Homo sapiens: one gene and its partners. The protein of the gene in region 3 purifies or fractionates together with the protein of the main gene of each other region. This does not show direct contact. Each region holds a gene or a part of one and is shown on either strand. Other genes may lie near its edges.

Region 1 (2,608 bases), on a different chromosome or scaffold from region 3:
CATCTGCTAGGCCGGGAGCCCCTCCAGCTGGTCCTCAGGGTTCCTCTAAGAGCACCTTCTCCAAGCCCCCCATCCTGCGGTCCCACGGCCCACCTGCACCTCCCTCGGGGCCCCTGGGTGCCAGCTGTGGCCCCCAGGCCCGCCCACCCTGGCCCAGTTGCTGCTTCCTGTTACCCCAGCCTCAGTGAAGCCCCTGTGGGCTGGTCCTGCCGTTTCACTTTCTTCACAGCACTCACCTCCCGGTGCCCACACTGCGCTGGGGGCCCAAGCGGGGACTTGTCCACCCGGTCCCCTGTGGCACACCCATGTCCAGCCCAGGCTGATGCACACCCACTCAACAGCTGCTGCAGTAGTTGGGGGGACCTAAAGACCCCACACCCCTCACTCAGGGCAGCCCCTGGGTCTCAGGGGCTAATATCCACAGCCAGGCCGTGCAGCCAGCAGACCGACATGACGGCTGGCCACAGATCGCAACACAGAATCAGACAAGCCTCAGGCAATTTCTGTTAAGTAACAACAGATCTTCCTGCTTTACTAAATCTATTCTTCCCCCAAGCCCTCGAGAAGCCCTGGCAGGACCCAGGCTGGCTACTGAGCTCTGGGCGGGGGTAGGGGGGTCTGGCCTGCTGCGGGCCAAGTTGGGGCAGGACATACAGCCCATTCCATGGGGAGGATGAGGCCCCTGGGGGTCAGTGAGGCACGGCTCTGCCTCAAGGCCACCCCCTCCTAAGGACACAGGGTGAAGCCCCCTCGGCCACATCCGGGGCAGCCATGCCAGAGCTGAGACCTCCTACGAGTGGTACTGGGGCCTTCCCACGAAGAGGCCTGGGGAGGCTCTCGGGCCTCCGTCTGCCCTCCCTCCTCGATGGGGGGCCTGATCCAGCTCTGACAGGGAGCGCCACTGCCCTCTGGCTCTGTCCACGGGGAACTCCCAGCGCCAGGACACTATGCAGGCTATGCCCGCACTGCCTACAGAGCTATGCTCAGGACGGGTGGGCGCCGGTCTCAGCTGTCGGGCACTCAGTTCACCTGCCGGCAGCCGCAGGGCTCCTGGGCCCACAACTCAAGTGGCCCTGGAGCAGGGGTCTGACCCCCATGCTGCTCCAGGCGGTGCAGGCAGCGGGGAGGGGGGTCTGGAGGAGGCAGGGGTGGGGGTGTCTGCCTCGGACGAGGCAGGTATCTGGATGCAGGGCCACAGCTGGAGGCAGAGGACCTTCAAGGAGCTGCTGCCTCTCAAGTGCCAGATCCTCAGCTCCCACGGCTGCGCCGGACACCTGCAGGGCTCTGGCTTCCACTCTGGCAGAGGCTGCTGGCGCCGAGTGCTGCTCAGGAGGGGACGGTGCGGAGGGTGGGCTGGAGACTCCAGAGCTGGTCCTGAGTCACAGGGCCAGCACACTCAGCCCTCCACACACTTGGACCAGCAGTGGGGCTGCCCCAAGCCTGTTTCCTTAATAGTAGCAACACCACACTGCCAGCCTTGGAGGGTCCTTGGATGAGTCGACGGCAGGCAGCGGGACCCAGCCCTGCACACACCCGGCCCACATCTGATCACACACATGCAGACGCTTGGTCCGGTTTCCCTTGCTGAATAGAAACACAATCCCAATGGTAAGTTCCACATGGGACGAGGGCTGTGGGACAGGTGCCACCTGTCACCAGGAGTCTCGGCGCTGGGGCCTGCCTGCTGCGGTCCTGGAAGCCCGTCTGATGCTGAGGAGACCCGCGAGGCCCCCTGCCAGGACATCACCTGCCTGGAGGCCACACTTCAGTAGCCGTCGTCCTCATCGCCATCACAGCCATAGTCTGCAGAAGAGCACAGTCATGAAGCCCAGGGTCTCTGTGGGACCCAGGAGCCCAGACCCCCCAACCCGCCCTGTTCCTGGTGCCCCCCTAGAAGACTCAGGCTCCAGCCCCAGCCCCAGCCCCCCGCGCCCCGCCAGGAGCCATCTTGGGCTCCTCTCCACCTCCCGGGACTGGCATGCACCCAGAGCAGGGCCTTGCTCCTCGTCGAGGGCACCTGAGAGCAGTGTGGGCTCCCTCAGCCTCCCTCCCTGGGTGTGCAGGTCCGTGGTGGTGTGCAGATCCGGGAACCTCGTGCTGCTGGCTGGGCGGCCCTCGTGGTGGGTACCTCACCGTCCCTAGCCTCTCTGACCCTGGCTGCCTCCAACCTCACAATCGACATGACCAATTTACAAAATGTCTTAGTTCAAATTTCTTTCCAGGGAGAAACAGAAATTTAGTTTGAAGCTAACAGGCCCAAGTTCAGGGATCATGAGGGGCAGTAGCTGATGCCTTTATTTCCCTTGAACCCCTCCCTGTTGTCGGGCCCCACCCACCGTTGCTGCCCATCATCTGCAGGGCACTGACGCAGGGCTCCCCGTCCTCCTCGTCAGGCTCCTCCTCGTCAGCCTCCTCGTCGGCGTGGTATGACACGGGCCCGCTCTCCACCAGCACCGCCTGGGGCCTGGCAGGCTCAGCTCCGAGGGTGGGAGAGCTTGGGAGCAAAGCCTGGAACGAAGTGGGGCTCTGACACACACAGAGCTGGGAGCCCTGTGTATCTCAACAGACCCCTCAGACCCACCAGGGCTGGCCCAGGATGCTCAGCCAC
Region 2 (3,500 bases), on a different chromosome or scaffold from region 3:
CTGTTAAATAATAGAAATTGTATAAAATATGCTATAAAGAGGACTAACATTAGGCATTACACTAAATAATGTACTTTCACTTAATCCACAAAACCTCAGACAGCTATTATCCATTTTACCGACGAGGAAATTGTTACCAAAAATGGAGTGAAGAGAAGGAATACCCCATAAAATACGGATTATCAAGGACCAACGATTTTCAGTGGTTTCCATATCTCCTAAGTCTAAATCAAATTTACCTTTCTTTTAAATAGAAACGGGGCCTTGCTATGATGCCCAGGCTGGTCTTGAACACCTGGGCTTCAAGAGATCCTCCCACCTCAGCCTCCCAAAGTGCTGGGATTACAGGTATGTGTCACCACTCCTGGCCAAAGTTACTTCCATATAAAATTTACAAAGAAGGAATACTTTTTTTCTCATTAAGTTTTCATATGAATCAAGCAAAATCAGAGTTTTTATTTCTAGAAGGTTATCATATCATTATTTCGGATAGTCCATTTATATCTGAGGCGCATCCCATTATAATTTTATGCAACTTGAATTTCAAATTATCACCAATGGACCAGGTGCAGTGGTTCACACCTGTAATCCCAGCACTTTGGGAGGCTGAAGCAGGAGGATCACTTCTGCCCAGGACTTCATGACCAGTCTAGGCAACAAAGCGAGACCCTCATCTCTACAAAAAATTTTTTAAATTAGCCAGGCACAGTGACATAAGCCTGTAGACCCAGTTACTCGAGGCTGACGCAGGAGGATCATTTGAGTCTGGGAGATAGAGGCTGCAGTGAGCCCGGGCAACAAAGCAAGACCCTATTCCAAATATATATATCTCGCTCTCTTACCAAACATTGTCTATCGCCATACCATCCTGAAAGCACCCCATCTCATCAAATATCACCAAAGAAAGACCTTATTGTGATTCTTTAAATCATCCAAAATCTACCCAAATAAGTTTTTTTCAGGTCCAAAGTAAAATTTAAATGAAAAAATGCAGTGAATTTTCTTATGACGCAAACAATATTTTCTTTCAAAACTGAGCTTTAGAATAACACTGCATCCTTCCTTTCTTAAAAACAGTGAGATTAAATGATAGTGATAAGAAGTTATAACTAGTTTTGTTTTTATTTTATGTTCCTTCTTGAGAGAAAAACCAAGGTGGTCATCTTCTCCTTAAAAAAAAAAAAAAAAAAAAAAAGAAAGTTCTGTGAAATTCCAGCATTTGGGAATGACTGCGACTGCATTAAACGAGTATCTGCATAAAGCACTGCAGTTGGAGAGATTTTCATTTTGAACCTTAGCCAAGATATGCAAAGCTAATTATGGAACTGTTAATTACTAAATGTTTAAAGGGTTATTTGAAGGCGACTAAGGTTCTATCAATATTGCAAGGAATGTTAATATTTTTATCATAAATTTAATTCCTCATTTGTTCAAAGTCACATACCAATAGAGTTTGAAGCTAATATTTCAGTTATAAATGTATTTCTGTACCAAGAAATTCAAATGTCATTGTTATGAAATCTAACTGCTTGTGGCCAATCATTTCTTTATGAGACATGCTTTTTAAATGGCATACAGATAGTTTAGTTGTATTCTATGAACAAAAACTATTTAAGAAACAAATATTACTAGAGCCCCAAAATGGGCTAAAATATAATGAGAGTATAAGCTGACAAATATGAGTCTGCTTATAAGCAATGGTAAAAAGAAACTCAAATGGAAAATTTAACTATAACAGACACAATTCTTCCATTAGATTTGAAAGTTAAATATTTGTCAGAGATATTCTTTCATGCCGTTTCTCATAATTTACAGTTCTCTGAGCTAAAGTTACTTTTTTCAGCCCTCTCATTATGACTCACGATGAATTCTACCAAGTACTTAGCAATGAATTAAGTCCTGTATTCTTTATAACACATCAATGAGTTAGTACTTATATCAAAAGTTGTAATAGCCCAAAAAAAAGTAAGATTATTAAATAGGAGGAGATGGGGTGGGGGTTATTTTACACATAACATTTTTAACAGTAACTTTTACAACTAGCTAAAAATGCATTACATTAGGTCTTTAAAGAGAAGAAACAGTTTTGCAATAGATGTTTCACCTGAAAAACTGAAAATGGTATGCATTTAGACACTCTACAGAAGCAATTTCAAAGGGCCTGAACTCAACAAGTTAACAAAATGGTTTAGAAAAACCATTTTATTGTATAAGCCTTGGGGGATAAAAGCTGTTTGTAATTTATTTACATCTTTTACTTCACCAAATTGCCTTGGTGACCAAGCTTCTCATTTAAGTGATTAAAGACATAAACCCAAATGGTTAAATAAAGCAATTACTTAAGAGTCCTGTTTTTCAACAGAGGTGCACTGAAAAATATCAGTAGAATGTTTTCAGGGCTCATTATTTTCAAGGAAGTTTGTTATTTAGAATACAATGCCCCATTGACTAGAACTCAGCCAGGTTTCCAGACACACAATATGGGACACACATTGGATTAGAGTTTTCCTCCTCCTCTCACAATATCAGGTGAAATAGTGATAGTCTCTTGAAACTGAGTATGTATAACCTGGCTAAAACTTAGATGATAATTTTTTTGGTATTTCTCCTTACTATTCCCCCTCTCTAAAGATATAACTGAAATGCGTTTCCATTGTGCAGGTGGACATGAAAAGCTCCCAATTTATGAAAGTTCCTGGTACTCTTCCCACCCCTAGATTCTCTTCTAGCCAACTTCTTAGGTTACACCAATGACATCAGGATTACTTCTAGGCAATTGATTGACCTAAATACAAAACTATGTTTTCACGGAGCTTGGGAAATGAATGAGGCCAGCAAGCCTTTAAAAAACAAACAGAAATGAACAGCAGGAAAAAAAATTACATATGTTCCCCAATTCTTTTCCTTTTGCCTATAACGAGAATCATGCAAACTCCTTTATCGAGTCTATCCTCAGAAACAGAAGGAAGCAAAACAGCAAAACTTTCCTAATTCCTGTCCTTCTGTTCATGATATCAAGCTTATTTAACATGGTTGCTTTTCTAATATTATAAAATTCGAACTCACAAACATTTATAAGACAAGGCTGTATGGAAAATCTTCCAGCGTTCCATTAACAAAGCATTCTTAACATAAAAAGTACCTTCTACAAAAACTTTTTTTTTTATAATTTTTGAGTAAATTTCAAATTTTTATAAGATTACTCCTGGCCAGTCAGGTAAAGATGGAAAACGTTCACATTTCGAACAACTTTCTCTTGAAAAGAAATAAACGTGGGGATTTGTAGTAATAACCAAACGAACATCAAAGTTAATAGGGCTGACACTTAGGAATGTTTGAAATGTTTGGTAGGTTTCCTTATGTTTACTTTTTCTATGAAGGTTTGGTAGGGCAAATGGGCTGCCTTCCGACTGTCAATAAAGCTTTCATGTCGTGGGTTAGTAGTAGCTGGCCCAGGCCAAGTTCTGTGTTGGGTCAGTTTTTACTCTATTCTACACAAC
Region 3 (3,500 bases):
TTAGGATCATGTCTTTCAAAAAATGCATTTGGGGATGTTTACACTGCTATTTATGGGACCAGTTGCTAATTCAGTAATTTCTTTATGGTTCTGTAACTACAGATTGATTCACAGCATATGGGCTGATATTCTTAATGTGTACGAAAAAGCCATGTTGAGATGGGAATTATTTAAAAATTTTTTTTCTCCCCATTGAATTTTCTCTTTAGATATGTCAGTTGAAGAAATTTTCTTGGTTATTTCTAATTTTTGAATATATTTGATTAATAACCTATTTTATTATAACTGTTAGAGTAAACATAATAATTTGAAAGTTGTCTCTTATCATTTTCTTTAGCATGTTACACCAGACAGCTATATTCCATGCCTTGCAGACCTGTGCAAAGCACTATGGGAAGTTATGCTCAGCTATTATAGGACTATGGAATGGCATGAAAAGCATGACAATGAGGATACTGCTTCAGCTTCTGGTAGGAAAATATTTTTATTTTATTTTAAAAATTGAACTATAAATATCCCACATTACTGGAGTAAGAAGAAAGGAAAGGGGCAGGAATGCCTTTGGGATTTCAAAGATTACAGTGACCATAGGCTAAATATTGAGCAAAGAAAGTGATTCAGCTACTTCAAATGTTCTATTACCTTTAGAGAGTAACTGGGCCAAAGGACTTTTTAAGTGGCACATAGTACTAGTTTCCAGAAGTGTGTGCTGATGGCTTTAGGACTGAATTTATAAATTTTTGTTGTTGTTAATATTATTAGTTGCAAACTAGATAAGACATTGGTCTGTCTAAGTTTACTGTGAAATTAATGCTAGATGGTCAATATTAATCTATTTAGCCAATTTTCAAGTTACAGTAATAAAGCTAGGTTCTAAGAATTAATTATATTGATACTTTCCTTCCTGAAAATGAAGCAAGACTAGAATTTCATTTTCAAAATGATGTTTTAAAATATTCATCTTTGAATGGAAAATATAACTTTAAATGACTGTGGTACAGTCAGCTAAATAATAAAGAATACGTCTTTGAAAAATTATTGTATTTATTAATCATTCTATTTAAATTGCTTCATTTGTATAATTATATATCTTAACTGATTATCCTTGAACAGTAGCTGAGATTGAATATTCAGAATACTTATAAAAACAGTAAATGATTTTATCAGCATTTTGTTTAATATGGATAAAATAAATTATACTGCACATCTTTTTTTTTGTATTATATACAATTTATTGTAGCTATTCAATCAAGTTACTTTAATAAACTTCCAGTTTCTGAGGGGCTTATTTTCTGTTGTTGGGTGAGTGGACAACACACCCAAATCTCACTGTTTGATTAAATGTTTTGGTAGTTTAGAAGGCATAGGTTTAATCTTTGTCTTGACTTACAAGAAGCTTGTAAATATAGAAAACAAAATAAGAGGAAAATTCCATGAATGGATTTTTATCCATTTGGAAATATTGTTGGGGAGAGTAAAGGAAGGGAGAGAAAGGCAGAGAGAAGGTTGGGCACACAGCCAGGATTCCAGGTCAGACTACTTTTACCCAAAACTTATACTTTTACCCTGTACTACCCCTGGGACCATGAGCTCTGCGATCTGAGAGGCCTGGCTTCAAGTTTTCACTTCTATTTACCAAAGGTGAGAACTTGAAGACACTGCTTATTTTTCCCATTCTTCAGTTTGCTCCTAAAATTGGTCAGTTAAAAAGCAAAGCAAAACCAAACCAAACCCTTAGAGTAGTAACGCATCTACCCTGCAGGGTTGTTGTAAAGTTTGGACAGCATGTAAGGTACTTATATTGGTGGTGGTTAATATGATGAAATGAAATGGATCAAGAGATAATATAATAATAGTGAAATACCTGGAGACTGTTAAGACATATTTGCTTTTCTAGTACATTATTTAAGGAGAAACCAAAGAAAACGTTTGGAATAGAATTAACACATATTTTAGATATCAGAATTTAGGTGACAGTTATGTATATATTCATCATGGTAAAGCTTGCTTTTTGCTTTAGGCCAATAGTTTACATTCGTTGGAATACTGAGTCAAAGTGAAAACTCTATCTGATCCTTATTACTCAACCCTCTTTGCCTAATCTGTATATTTTATGGATATTCAAGTGCTCAAGCTGTCAGCTGATAGTATCTAGGACTATAAAAAGTTACTTGTTCACCTGAAATTAATCCTTTTATATTCAGGAATAAAATTGTAGAAATTAGTAAATTGAAAATTACTTTTCATGGAACTTCATAAAACTGAAGAGGACTCTAGACTTTATCTGCTGTATCTCTTTAGTGATAATATTTGATACTGTTTGGTAACCTAATACTTTAACGTTCTAAGGTAAAGCTCTAAAGCTATAGTTCAGGTGCACTGCCTTAGGCTGCTGGATCCCTAACAGCCATACCATGGGTGTAATAATAAGGCTTACGTTTTAGGAGTGCTCAGAGGCAAACTTGTCATGCATCTGTGTATCTGAGGCCTGGCATTTCCAAGGACCTTTTACTGGTTATCAGTGGATAACTTCCCAACCTAAGACAAGATGATAACATACTCACTTAGTTGTTCTTCACAGGATATTCACACAAAAGTTTCATCTTTTTAATATAAATGTGTATGTGTCTTTTTCAGTTGTCTTTAGGGCGGAGATTGGAGGCAGATCACTGATCTTATCTATTAAACTAGACATTGTTAAATTATTTATCTGGAGTGGATAAAACTATTATTTATCATGAAAAATATAAAATATATGCATTATCACCTCACGCCTGAGTTTTAATGTAGACTATCCTCTTAGCACGCATATTAATTGATAATTCAGTTAATTGGTCCTGTAATGCCCTTCTCACAGCCTTTTACATGGTCTTGCAGTAGGCAGTATTGAGAACCTGGTCTCTGGGACCACACTGACTCAGGTAGAATCCCAACTCAGTCACATATGATCTCAGTGGTCTTAGGTATATTTAGCATTTCATAGTCTACGTTTATTTGTCTCACCAAATGGGTTTAAGTCTAATACCTATTGTTTGATATTGTTTTGATTGTATAAATATCAAACATATTTACTGTATCTTACATAGACTTACAATGTGTGAGAGGCCAAATAGAAATTATTTGGAAAACAAACACAAATTGGATTAAATCTAAAAATATATATTGTCTTTTATTTTCAGAAGGGAGTAATATGATAGGTACTGAAGAAACTAATTTTGATCGTGGCTACATAAAAAAGAAATTAGAACATGGACTTACACGAATATGGCAGGTTTGGTTTTTTTAAAATTATTTTTTTCACAGAAGCAATAGAAATGTCATGTCATAGTTTTAGAAATTCAGTTTTAAGTTTTCTATATATGTATTCTTTGCAGATTTAATCATATGTTTCTGTTTGGAATTAGGCTATCATTTAATTTCTGTAATGTATTTGGACTATAAGTGGCAGGAAAAAAGTTTTTTAATTTGAAAATCTCCACTGGAAATATTCATACATGTCT
Region 4 (2,457 bases), on a different chromosome or scaffold from region 3:
TAACCTGAAAAAACATTAGAGTAAAAATCATTGAAATTGAAAAGAGAAAATCGATAAAACCCAAAACTGGTTCCTTGAAAAGGTCAGTAAAATTGATAAACCTCTAGCTAGCTTAAGAACAAACAGAAGACAAATATTGCTAATACCAAAAATGAAAGAGGCCATCACAGCTAATCCTATGGTCACCAAAAGGATTAGAAAGAAACATGGACAACTCTGTCCATAAATTTGATAACTTAGCTAAAATGGACCAATTCCTTGCAAGACGCATTCTCTCAAAGCTCACACAAGATAGACCTCAATAGGCATATGTATCTATTAAATAAACCAAAGCAGTAATTAATAACCTTCCAAGGCCAGGTACAGTGGTTCATGCCTGTAATCCCAGCACTTCACTTTGGGAGGCTGAGGCGGGTGGATCACAAGGTCAGGAGTTCGAGACCAGCCTGGTCAACATGGTGAAACCCCCTATCTACTAAAAATACAAAAAATTAGCTGGGCATGGTGGCATGCGTGTGTAGTCGAAGCTACTCAGGAGGCTGAGGCAGAAGAATCACTTGAACCTGGGAGGTGGATGTTGCAGTGAGCTGAGATTGTGCCACTGTACTGCAGCCTGGGTGACAGAATGAGACTGCATCTCAAAAAATAATAATGAAACTTTCCAAAACAAAGTGCCAGGACCAGCTGGGTTCACTGATGTGTTTTTGAGATACTTAAGGTAGAAATGATACCAAGTCTCTACCATCTCTTTCAGAAAATAAAAGCAGAGATAACACTTCCCAACTCATTTTGTGAGGCCAGTATTACCCTAATAGCAAAACCAGGCAAAGATATTACAAGAAAGGAAAACTACAGATCAATATTTCCATTGAACACAGATGCAGAAATCCTCAAAATATTAGCAAATCAGGAATGCAAGGCTTGTTCAACATTTGATATTCAGTGTAATCCATTGCATGCATTAGCAGCTCAAAGATGAAATACGATCATATCAATAGGTACAGAAAAAGCATTTGACAAAATCCAATATCCATTCATGTTAAAACCTCTCAACACAGAAGGAATACAGGAGAACTTACTCAAGTTGGTAAAGAACATACTACAAAAAACCCTACAGCTAACATTATCCTTGATGTTTCCAACTAGACACTTTCCTACTAAGATCAGGAACATGGCAAGGAACACCACACCACTGCTTTTCAGCATTGTACTGGAAGTGCTATATAATGCAGTGTTAAAAAAAAAAGAAATAAAATGCACATAGATTTGAAAGGATGAAATACAACTTTGTTCACAAGTAACATGATTGTCTTTGTAGAGAATTCTAAATAACAAAAACCCTGCTGACATTAATAAGCAATTACAGCAGGATTGCAGGATACAGTCCTCAGGTAGATGATAAAAAGGAATTGGACATCAAGTCATTAAAAGACACGGAGAAACCCTAAATGCTTATTGTTAAGTGAAAACCAATCTGAAAAGGCTTTCTATTTTGTATGATTGCAATTATATGACATTTTGGGAGAGGCAAAACTATTGAGCCAGTGAAAGGACCAGTGGTTGCTGAGAGTTGAGGGGAAAGGAGGGATGGCAGGTAGAGAGGTGATTTTTAAGGCAGTGAAAGTACTCTCTAGGGTACTGTAATTTGTCAAAACGCAGAGAATGGAAAACAGTGAACGGAAAACACAGAGTAAACCCTAATGTCAACTCTGGACTTCAGTTAATAATAATGTATCACTGTTGGCTCATTAATTGTAACAAATGAACCATAATGATGCAAGATGTTAATGATTGGGGAGCCTGTGGAAGATGGGAGGGGAAAGGGTTATATGAGAATTCTCTATACTTTTTGCTCAACTTTCTGTAACCCTAAAGCTACTCTAAAAAATGAAGTGTATCAAGTAAATAAATAACCAACCAACCAACCCTGAGGAACATCTTGTTTCTGTACTAAGGTGTTCTTTTGTTAGTTGTATGTTTCTGACTGAACATGTAAATCATCATTAGTGAACAATTGAATTGCTTTTGTACATCCTTAATATATTTTAAATTATGGTAACTGTGACCTGAAATTAAGGACTAGTATTTTTGGTTCTCTTGACATCTGAAGCCAATAGGGCCTCAAATGACCTAACCTCATTTCCATCCCCACTCTGCTTCCACAGGTGAGGTAACTTAGCAGACAGTCCTCCTTGTCAGGGGGGCCAGGCACAATTCCTGCTTATTCCTAAGTAGTAAGATTTGCTTCCCTGCCAGCTCTTGGAATTATCACCAAACCCCTCACATCCTCCCACAGCAAACAGTGGTCACTGTACTCTGGATAATACAGCTGCTCGCCACAACCCCTCCTTTTCCACTCTGCTCCCTAGTCGAACCCTGTGTGGCTCTTCCCAGCATGTGGTGTCCTTCTCACCTTTCTGAGAGTTGGTGTGACTGACAAACTCACCTAGATCTTAT

What was found. Proteins that work in one complex are often made in the same cells at the same time.
Region 1: the proteins of VPS50 (region 3) and BRF1 purify together in Homo sapiens (affinity purification with mass spectrometry; one large-scale study listed by BioGRID and IntAct). This does not show direct contact.
Region 2: the proteins of VPS50 (region 3) and RAPGEF2 purify together in Homo sapiens (affinity purification with mass spectrometry; one large-scale study listed by BioGRID and IntAct). This does not show direct contact.
Region 4: the proteins of VPS50 (region 3) and ZNF33A purify together in Homo sapiens (affinity purification with mass spectrometry; one large-scale study listed by BioGRID and IntAct). This does not show direct contact.

Annotation. Positions count from the first base shown.
Region 1 is NC_000014.9:105,208,786-105,211,393, forward strand, and holds the end of BRF1 (transcription factor IIIB 90 kDa subunit), read right to left. Parts: intron 2,509-2,608; coding exon 2,337-2,508; intron 1,804-2,336; coding exon 1,766-1,803; 3' UTR 501-1,765; downstream 1-500.
Region 2 is NC_000004.12:159,106,079-159,109,578, reverse strand, and holds part of RAPGEF2 (rap guanine nucleotide exchange factor 2), read right to left. Parts: intron 1-3,500. UniProt on the Homo sapiens protein: Functions as a guanine nucleotide exchange factor (GEF), which activates Rap and Ras family of small GTPases by exchanging bound GDP for free GTP in a cAMP-dependent manner.
Region 3 is NC_000007.14:93,291,366-93,294,865, forward strand, and holds part of VPS50 (syndetin), read left to right. Parts: intron 1-337; coding exon 338-470; intron 471-3,179; coding exon 3,180-3,271; intron 3,272-3,500.
Region 4 is NC_000010.11:38,058,131-38,060,587, forward strand, and holds the end of ZNF33A (zinc finger protein 33A), read left to right. Parts: 3' UTR 1-1,957; downstream 1,958-2,457. UniProt on the Homo sapiens protein: May be involved in transcriptional regulation.